Regions from separate parts of the Homo sapiens genome. Here region 1 is linked to region 2. The links come from fine-mapping of genetic effects on gene expression. Tissue or cell type: whole blood. Region 2 holds a variant in brackets; the other region holds the start of a gene. All regions are shown on one strand. Distances are from middle to middle.

Region 1 (5,146 bases), 78 kb after region 2:
CACGGTGTTAGCCAGGATGGTCTCGATCTCCTGACTTCGTGATCTGCCCACCTTGGCCTCCCAAAGTGCTGGGATTACAGGCGTGAGCCACTACGCCTGGCCAGCAGCACATATATTAAAACTGGAATAATACAGGGAAGATTAGCAGAAGGATGACATGCAAATTTGTGAAGCGTTCCATATTAAAAATGTTTAGGCTGGGCGCAGTGGGTCACACCTGTAATCCCAGCACTTTGGGAGACTGAGGCGGAAGGATTGCTTGAGCTCAGGAGTTCAGCTGTGGGCAACATAGCGAAACCTTGCCTCTTACAATAACTACAAAAATTAGCTGGGCATGGTGGCACACACCTGTAGTCCCAGCTACTTGGGAGGGTGAGGTGGGAGGATCACTTGAGCCTTGGAGGCGGAGGTTGCAGTGAGTTAAGTTTATGTCACCAGCCTGGGTGACAAAAAAAAAAAAAAGGGGGCAGCACCAACTGCTGTGCTATGTGCTAACAGACTTGAAAGATGCCTTAGAAAAAGGCCATTTGGCAGCTCTGGTGAAAAAAGGAAAAAAGGTCACAGCTTGCCAGTTCCATCTCAGAGCCCCAGGATAGGCCCCTGCATAGAGCAGACCAATGCCACACCTGCTGGAGGAAAAGCAATGAGTCTCAGGACACCAGAGCAAAGAGACTTAGAAATGACTTGAGCTTCATCTTCCAGGTAAGGAAACTGAGGCCTAGTGAAATGAGCAGTCATTGCCCAGAAGGAAGCAAACGCAGTGAGAAAAGCCCTCTGAAGAAAAGGAAATGGTGTGAGAACAGCAGTGACTGCAGAAGGGAAGGCTCACGGGAGACTTCACTGACAGGAACCCCAGGATGTCATTCTCTGACTCTACCAGACAGGAAAAAAGGGCAGGCTGGGTGAGATCTCAGTAAGTGTTATGTTCTTGAGACTCAGGGAGTTTTAAGAGAAATGAGAACATTTTCTTTTATTCTTTCTTTTTTTATTTTGTTTGAGACAGAGTCTCGCTCTGTTGCCCAGGCTAGAGTGCAGTGGCACAATTTCAGCTCACTGCAACGTCCGTCTGTCAGGTTCAAGCAATTCTCCAGCCTCAGCCTCCCGAGTAGCTGGGATTACAGGTGCCCACCACCCAGCCTGGCTAATTTTTGTATTTTTAGTAGAGACAGCGTTTCACCATGTTGGCCAGGCTGGTCTGGAACTCCTGATCTCAAGATATCCGCCCACCTCAGCCTCCCAAAGTGTTGGGATTACAGGTGTGAGCCACCGCGCCCAGCCGAAATGAGAACATTTTCTGACAGGCATCCACCCACGCTTGTGAGCTAGTCTCTCCACCTTCTAGGAAACAAATCCAGGACCTGCTGCTCCTCAGGCACCAGTACCCTGCAGGACCTGCCCCCTGTGACCACGTATTCCCTCCTGAAAACCTATCACCGTTCTTTTCCTCTCTTATTCTTCTCTGGCTTCTCTTCGCCCCTCACTGCTAAATGTAACGTTCAGCTCTCAAACTGCCGCTCATTATTTCCCTCCCTACAGACTTTGTCTCTCCAGAATCTGCTCCCATAGATTTGGCACATTGCCAATGCTTCCCCAACCCTGAGATGTAATAACAAAACCCCAACTGCTTGCAAGATGTTTCTATTGGGCTTGTCTTGTCTGCTCAAAATTGTTGTCAAAATCAAAGTCAGGCCAGGTGTGGTGGCTCATGCCTGTAATCCCAGCACTTTGGGAGGCTGAGGCAGGTGGATCACTTGAGGTCAGGAGTTCGAAACTAGCCTGGCCAACATGGTGAAACCCTGTCTCTACTAAAAATACAAAAATTAGCCAGGCATGGTGGTGCGCGCCTGTAGTCCCAGCTACTTAGGAGGCTGAGGCACGAGAATCGCTTGAGCCTGGGAGGTGGAGGTTGCAGTGAGCTGAGATCATGCCACTGAGCTCCAGCCTGGGTGACAGAGCAAGTCCCTGTCTAAAAAAAAAAAAAAGAAAGGGAAGGACATGTTTTTTGGAGGCGGCAAAGTCTCAAACTCACTGGTGGTGTGTGGTAGATGACTGACACCTTGGCCGGTCAAGACGCCGGGGTTGGATGGTCCAAGAAGAGGCCTGGGTGTGGGCGGGGACCCTTGAAACTTACACTGTCTGGACGTCAGTGGCGAGCCCGGCCAGACCGATGTACAGCCGGTCACCCATGGGAAAGATCTTCTGGAAGTCCGTGGTCACCATCTGGGCCTGGATCCCGAAGCGCCTGTCTGCAGCGATGGCCACACAGTTCTTCCCCTTCATGGCCATGACGGCCCCTCCGTTATAGGACATAATAGACTAGGACAGACAGAGCGGAGGGGTCAGCGCGGGGGGTCAAACGCTGCCACAGCCCCCGGCCCAGCTCCTGATGCGGAGGCTCCTGTACGCCCGTTCTCCATTCCGGAGGCGTCTGAACCCCTGGTTCTCCAGCTGGGATGAGCACTGTGTGGCGGCAATGAGCCGCACTCACCCTCTTGGTCCTCACCGGGGCCCGCTCCCCTCGAACTGAAACCGCTTCCTTCCATCGACCCTAGGCCCTTTTCGTCCCCAAGCCTCTCCTGACCCCCTCCGCTTCTCAATCCTTCCCCATGCCCCTTTGCTTTAACTCCCCATCTCACCATGATTGCGGTGTACTAGGATCCCTCGATCGCCAGAGCAATTCCAGTAAACCGGGTCTAGCCTTCACTGCGCAACCGCTCTCACTGCTGTCTCTTCATTGGCTGATAGGCGGACTCTTCCTGGACATCTGGGCTTTCTATTGGTCACACGTCCCTGTCGGTCACCAGTACAGGTAGTTTGGTTGCAAAGTCAAAACGGAGGCGGGAAAAGCGGAAGTGAAAAGTCACTGTGGCTGCGGAAGAGACTTGCGACACGGTGCATAGTGGGATCTCGGCGGACCTGGACTCGGGACCTCAGGGACTGGGGGCGGAGCCTGCGCGCACGTGGGCTGGTGAAACTGGGTTTAGGAAGCTGCGGCCCCAGCTGAAGGGGCACCGTGACGCTTATCAACGTGATGTATGAGTTCGTCGTATTAGTCGTGCTAGCTTATTTATTCACTCCAGAAATCCTGCGTTTACTGTGTACCAGGCACTTGCCTAGGCTCGGAATATTCACTGGCCCACAACAGTGCCTAGTATATAGGAGGCGCCCATTAAATGGAAATTTAATGATGCAGGTGGGAAGGGGAAGGCGTCGCGTGTAGGCGTCGCGGGTATTTTGCGGCTGCAGGGGTTCAGCTGTGAAAGGGAGTTTGGAAGCCGAAGCTTGTTCTGATTTGGGGGACTTCCTGCGGCCCGACTTCACGTATCCTCAATCTCAGGTCACCCTAAAAAGGGACGTTCCGCGCCTCTCCACGTTTGAGGTAGAACCTGAGGATAGCCAGAGTCGACCTCTCGCCGTTCCAATGGAGGAAGGGCGTGCACGTCCCGCGTCCTCTCCTCCCAAGCTCTTTCGCCTCCCTCCCCCATCAGGATCCTTCCCTTTCTCCCCCGGGTTCCACTTATTTCGCCCGATGGCGGCATCTCTTACGGCGTCTGCGCCGTCCAGGCTCGCTCCCATTGACTCGGCTCACTACTACGCCGGTAGTCGACTCGGTCTCTGTGGCGCAATCGGTTAGCGCGTTCGGCTGTTAACCGAAAGGTTGGTGGTTCGAGCCCACCCAGGGACGCTATGACCTTTTTTTTTTTTTTTTTTGTCTTTTGGGTTTTTTTTTTCTCCCCGGAAGATAAAAACCTAAGCCTTTTACTCAAAAGCCAAATTTTGCATTGAAATGGCAGCAGCAATACTTTTTCTAGGAGAATCACTGTTCTTGAAAATTCTTTGCTGCTCAGTCAATAATGGGATAATTTCTCCAGCACTTCCCTCCACACCCCCCCAACCCGCCTCCAAGCTAGATCGCAGGAAACCTAAAGACACAGGTTTTTGTCTCACTGTGCATGCAACACGTTTCAGGATGCATTTTTTCATAGGATTAAGAATGAATTTACAGTGGAGGTTCGACAGTTTTCTATTGTCTGCCTCAATCGATATTACAGTCTCCAAATACTACATTTGGAAGGGAAGAGAATGAGAGAGACACAGAGAGAGAAACAAGTATGAAGAGAAACAAAGGTGAGAAAGGGAGAACATTGTTGTGATACAGGGAAAGAAGGGACGTGACAGAACTAGGCAGGGTGGGTAGGGGAAGACCTCAAGACAATGGAGAGTGGGAAAATAGACGCATTTAATATTAGAAGCATCAGAAAAAAAGGAAAACAACACATTTTTTCCCCCTAGAACTACACAGGGAGGTGGGGGAGGAAGATGGGGAAATAGAAGGAGAAACTGACTAAGGACCTTGTTTGGGGGAGATAAAAGGTATAAAGGACACAGAGGTAAAGACGTTCCGGAAAGCTCTAGAGGAGCCGCCCTCTCCTGTCTCGTCACCATTTTTAAAGGGATCTGATCCTCGCAATAGCTCTTGGTATATGCTGGAGGTAATTGCCTAGATTTCCCGCGTTCCTGTCCTCTGCGAGTCTCTGGCTTGTGACAGCCACTGTGACTCTTCTGATGCACTTGTCAGCTAGAGGACCGCGTGAGATGCAAACACAAAATCAAGGGGCGCCTAATGTCTGACGAGGCGCATTCCTGGGCGCAGTGGGAGCCTCGACCTTTGTGGAGGAGAATGTGCAAAGCACTCTTGAGCAGTTCTCATAGACACTTGGTCTCTGCAGATTCGGCTCAAAGGAGGCCTCTTCTGGAAGCCCACCCCAGTACTCACCCACCCTTAGCGGGAGCTCACACCAGAAGCGATGGGCGCTAAAGGGACAGGCTGTGTGTCCTTCAGGGTTTGCACCCACCGGCCTGTGAGCGCCCTGCGCAAAAGCCAGGCTCCTGTGCCTTGAGTTCCCAGTTCCTAGCGCAGTATTTGACACTGGCACATGACAGGTGCTTTCTATGTCGGCTAGTAGTAGAACAAAAGACTAGGAAACTCTTTCGATGTGGGAAGAGTTGGGTCAGAAGGTTCTCCTGAGAAACCAGAAAGGCCAGGAATGTGGAGACTAGTCATCCAGGACGCAAAAGATGAAAATGGAGTTTTAGTGGGTAATAGGGTCTTAGCACACTCCTCTCTAGCGGTTCTCTCCTGTCT
Region 2 (5,146 bases):
CCAGAAAAAAAAAAAAAGTTCAAGACCAGCATGACCAATATGGTGAAACCCTGTCTCTACTAAAAATACAAAAAATTAGCCGGGCGTGGTGGTGCACGCCTGTAATCCCAGCTACTTGAGAGGCTGAGGCAGGAGAATCGCTTGAACCTGGGACGCAGAGGTTGCAGTGAGCTGAGATCGCGCCATTGCACTCCAGCCTGGGCGACAGAGCGAGACTTTGTCGAAAGAAAAAAAAAAAGGCTTGGTGCGGTGGCTCACGCCTGTAATCCCAGCACTTTGGGAGGCCAAGGCGGGTGGATCACGAGGTCAGGAGATCAAGACCATCCTGGCTAACACGGTGAAACCCTGTCTCTACGTAAAATACAAAAAATTAGCCGGGCATGGTGGTGGGCGCCTGTAGTCCCAGCTACTGGGGAGGCTGAGGCAGGAGAATGGCGTGAACCCGGGAGGCGGAGCTTGCAGTGAGCCAAGATCGCACCACTGCACTCCAGCCTGGGCGACAGAGTGAGACTCTGGGAAAAAAAAAAAGAAAGAAAGAGAGAAAAGGAAAGAAAGAGAAAGAAAGAAAAGAAGGAAAGAAAGAAGGAAGGAAGAATAGAAAGAGAAATAAAGAAAAGAAGGAAGGAAAGACAGAAGAAAGGAGAGAGAAGGAAAAGAGAGAGAGAGAGAGAAATGCCGGGTGCGGTGGCTCACGCCTGTAATCCCAGCACTTCAGGAGTCCGAGGTGGGTGGATCATGAGGTCAGGAGTTTGAGACCAGCCTGACCAACATGGTGAAACTCCGTCTCTACTAAAAATATAAAAATTAGCCGGGCATGGTGCCGTGCACCTGTAATTCTAGCTACTTGGGAGGCCGAGGCACCAGAATCGTTTGAATCTGGGAGGTGGAGATTGTGTGAGCCGAGATTGCACCAGCCTGGGCAAAAAGAGTGAGACTCTCTCTCCTAAAAAAAAAAAAAAAAAAGAGGCCGAAGCAGTGGCTCACGCCTGTAATCCCAACACTTTGGGAAGCCAAGGCGGGCTGATCATGAGGTCAGGAGATCAAGACCATCCTGGCTAACACGGTGAAACCCCGTCTCTACTAAAAATACAAAAAAATTAGCCAGGCGTGGTGGCGGGTGCCTGTAGTCCCAGCTACTTGGGAGGCTGAGGCAGGAGAATGGCATGAATCCGGGGGGCGGAGCTTGCAGTGAGCCGAGATCGCGCCACTGCACTCCAGCCTGGGTGACAGAGTGAGACTCCATCTCAAAAGAAAAAAAAAAGAAAAGAAGGAAAAAAGGAAGGAAGAAGGAAAGCAAGAAAAGGAAAGAAGGAAGGAAAGATAAAGAAAGAAAAGGAGAGAAAGATGGAAGGAAAGAAAGAAAAGAAAGAAAGAAGGAAGAAAGGAAAGAAAGAAGAAAGAGAGAAAGAAAAGAAGGAAAGAAAGTAGGAAGGAAGGAAAGAAAGAGAGAAAGAAAATGAAGGAAAGAAGGAAGGAAAGAAAAGAAAGAGAGAGAAAGAAGGAAGGAAAGAAAGAAAGAAAAGGAAGGAAAGAAGGAAGGAAGGAAAAAAGAGAGAAAAGGAGGCCAGGCGCGGTGGCTCACGCCTGTAACCCCAGCACTTTGGGAGGCCGAGGCAGGCGGATCATGACGTCAGGAGATTGAGACCATCCTGACTAACACGGTGAAACCCCGTCTCTACTAAAAATACAAAAAATTAGCTGGGTGTGGTGGTGGTGGATGCCTGTAGTCCCAGCTACTCAGGAGGCTGAGGCAGGAGAATGGCGTGAACCCAGGCCACTGCACTCCAGTCTGGGCGACAGAGCAAGACTCCCTCTCAAAAAAATAAAATAAAATAAAATAAGATGAAAAAGAATTGCTTATTGCTTAAATGGAAGGGGCATATGTCACATTCTGGGTGGTGTACTTCAGCTTTACATCTTTTTTTTTTTTTTTTTTTGAGAGAGGGTCTCGCTCTGTCACCCAGGCTGCAGTGTAGTAGCATGACCACGGCTCACTGCAGCCTGAAACTCATGGGCTCAAGTAATCCTCCTGCCTCAGCCTCCCCAGCAACTGGGACTACAGGCATATGCCACTACACCTGGCTAATTTTTTTTTTTTTTAACATAAGTAGAGAGGAGGTCTTGCTTTGTTGCTCAGGCTGGTCTCCAACTCTTGGGCTCAAGTGATTCTCCCACCTCAGCCTCTGAAAGTGCTGGGACTACAAGTGTGAGCACCGTGCCCAGCTTCACATCTTGTGTCTGTTTGTCCCAAGTGTGGGATGGGTACTGCAGGCATTTGCAATTTGACTGGAGATAGACAAAAACACTGAATCACAGAATTAAAAAAATTATTCCCTTTCCTATCCTCAGTAACTTAAGAAAAAAGTCGTTTAAAAAATTTTTTTTAAAGAGATGGACTCTCACTCTGTCACCCAAGCTGAACTACAGTGGCACAATCACGGCTCACTGTAGCTTCCAACTCCTGGGCTCAAGTGATCCTCCTGCCTCAACCTTCCAAGTAGCTGGGATTATAGGTATGTGCCACCATGCCCAGCACTGTACACTCTTTGAATAAAAGAGAGGGAGATTGGCTAGGCGTGGTGGCTCACACCTGTAATCCTTGCACTTTGGATTTAGAAGATTTAGAAGTGTTAGAGAGCTGGCACCAAATAAGAATTCCTCCTGTCAGGCACAGTGGTGGCTCCAGCCTGTAATCCCAGCTCCTCTGGAGGCTGAAGTGGGAGCATCACTTGAGTCTAGGAATCGAGATCAGCTTAACCAATATATTTAGACCCTGACCAACATATTGAGACCCATTTCAAGAAAAATAAAATGTATCTAGTTAGTGTTTAATAATGTCATATTTAGGCCGGGCGCGGTGGCTCACGCCTGTAATCCCAGCACTTTTGGAGGCCGAGGCGGGCGGATCATGAGGTCAGGAGATTGAGACCATCTTGGCCAACATGGTGAAACCCCATCTCTACTAAAAAATATAAAAAATTAGCCGGGTGTGGTGGCACGTGCCTGTAATCCCAGCTACTTGGGAGGCTGAGGCAGGGGAATCGCTTGAACCTGGGAGGTAGAGGTTGCAGTGAGCTGAGATCGTGCCACTGCACTCCAGCCTGGGGACAGAGCAAGACCCCATCTCAAAAAAAAAAAAAAA[AG/G]TCATTTTTAGTTTCCATTCTATTTATGGCAAGTAATACTGATTCTCTTTAATAGCTTTATTGATATAATTTACATGCCGTGCAATTCAGCCAACAAAAGCCTACAATTCAATCATTTTTAGTATATTCACAAAGTTGTTCACCCATCGATACAATCAATTTTAGCACAATTTCATCACACCAAACTGAAACTCCATACCCATTGGCAGTCAACTTCCTATTTCCTCCCAACCTACCCATCTCTAGGCAACCACTAATCTACTTTCTGTCTCTATTGATTTGCCTATTATAGAAATTTCCTATAAATGGAATGATACATGTGGTCTTTTGTGACTGGCTTTTTTCACTTAGCATACTGTTTTCAAAGTCTATCTATGTTGTAGCTCTTAACAGTACTTCTTTTTTATTTTTTTTTGGAGATGGAGTCTCACTCTGTCACCCAGGCTGGAGTGCTGTGGTGCAATCTTGGCTCGCTGCAACCTCCGCCCCCCTGTTCAAGCGATTCTCCTGCCTCAGCCTCCCAAGTAGCTGGGACTACAGGCATGTGCCACCACGCCCAGCTAATTTTTTGTATTTTTAGTTGAAATGGAGTTTCACTGTGTTAGCCAGGATGGTCTCGATCTCCTGACCTCGTGATCTGCCCGCCTCAGCCTCCCAAAGTGCTTGGATTACAGGCATGAGCCACCATGTGTAGCCAGTACTTCTTTTTTTATGGCCAAATAATATTCCACTGTGTGGATATACCATACTTTATCTATTCATCATCATCAGGTAATGGATATGTTTTGATTCTCTGCCCTACTTTATTTTTGAGACAGAGTCTCACTCTGTTGCCCAGGTTGGAGTGCAGTAGTACAATCTTGGCTTACTGCAGCCTCCAAATCCTGGGTTCTCAGCCTCCTGAATAGTTGGGATTACAGATGTGCACCACCACACCCAGCTAATTTTTTACTTTTAGTAATTTTTGTATTTTTAGGGTTTTGCAATGTTGGCCAGGCTGGTCTCCAACTCTTGGCCTCAAATGATCTGGCCATCTTGGCCTCTCAAAGTCCTGGGATTACAGGCATGAAACACCATGCCCAGCCTCCCCCATGTTTTAACTGGTATGAATAACGGCTACTATGAACATTCACGTACAAGATTTTGGCCAGGTGTGGTGGCTCACACCTATAATCCCAGCACTTTGGGAAGCCGAGGTGGGCAGATCACTTGAGGTCAGGAGTTGGAGACCAGCCTGGCCAACATGGTGAAACCTCCTCTCTACTAAAAATACAAAAAAATTAACCGGGTGTGGTGGTGTGCGCCTGTAATCCCAGCTACTTGGGAGGCTGAGGCACGATAATCGCTTGAACCAGTGGGGTGAAGGTTGCAGTGAGCCAAGAGCACAGCACTGTACTCCAGCCTGGAAGACAGAGCAAGACTCTGTCTCAAAACAAAACAAAATAAAAAGCCATTCATGGGCAATATTTTGTATTGATGTATGCTTTCATTTCTCTTGGGAGTATATACCCAGGAGTAGAAATGCTGGGTTATATGGTAACTAAGTTTAACCTTTTGAGGAACTGCCAGACTCTTTCCCAAAGCATTGCTTTTCTTTCCTTTTTTCTTCCTTTTATTTTTTTGTCAGACAGTGTCTTATTGTGTTGCCCAGGCTGGTCTCAAACTCCTGGGCTCAAGCAGTCCTCCTACCTCAGCCTCCCAAAGTGCTGGGATTACAGGCATGAGCCACTGTGCTCTGCTTGCTTTTCTTTATTTAATTAAATTAATTAATTAATTAAGTTTGAGGTGGAGTCTGGCTCTGTCACCCAGGCTGGAGTACAGTGGTGCAATCTCAGCTCACTGCAACCTCTGCCTCCTGGGTTCAAACGATTCTCCTGCCTAGCCTCCTAAGTACCTGGGATTACAGGCGTGCACTGCTACGCCCAGCTAATTTTTTTGTATTTTTAGTAGAGACGGGGTTTCGCCATGTTGGCCAGACTGGTCTTGGATTCCTGACCTCAGGT

Evidence for each region. PIP is the estimated chance that this variant, and not a neighbour inherited with it, causes the effect.
Region 1: PSMB3 starts here. The variant in region 2 is fine-mapped to the expression of PSMB3 in whole blood (INTERVAL, PIP above 0.99).

What each region holds. Positions count from the first base shown.
Region 1 is chr17:38,750,320-38,755,465 of GRCh38, reverse strand. PSMB3 (proteasome 20S subunit beta 3) reads right to left here and starts at 2,725. Exons shown (of 6, transcript NM_002795.4): 1 at 2,637-2,725; 2 at 2,132-2,316. The coding sequence starts at 2,639. TRN-GTT2-5 (tRNA-Asn (anticodon GTT) 2-5) reads left to right here and starts at 3,612; the gene lies at 3,612-3,685. LOC100287808 (a long non-coding RNA gene) reads right to left here. Exons shown (of 1, transcript NR_149004.1): 1 at 3,714-5,146. It also overlaps the pseudogene RNU6-866P.
Region 2 is chr17:38,827,959-38,833,104 of GRCh38, reverse strand. No RefSeq gene overlaps it. Among named protein-coding and RNA genes, the nearest start is that of MIR4727, 4.7 kb to the right of the region's middle. The variant AG/G (reference allele first, on the strand shown) is at 3,143.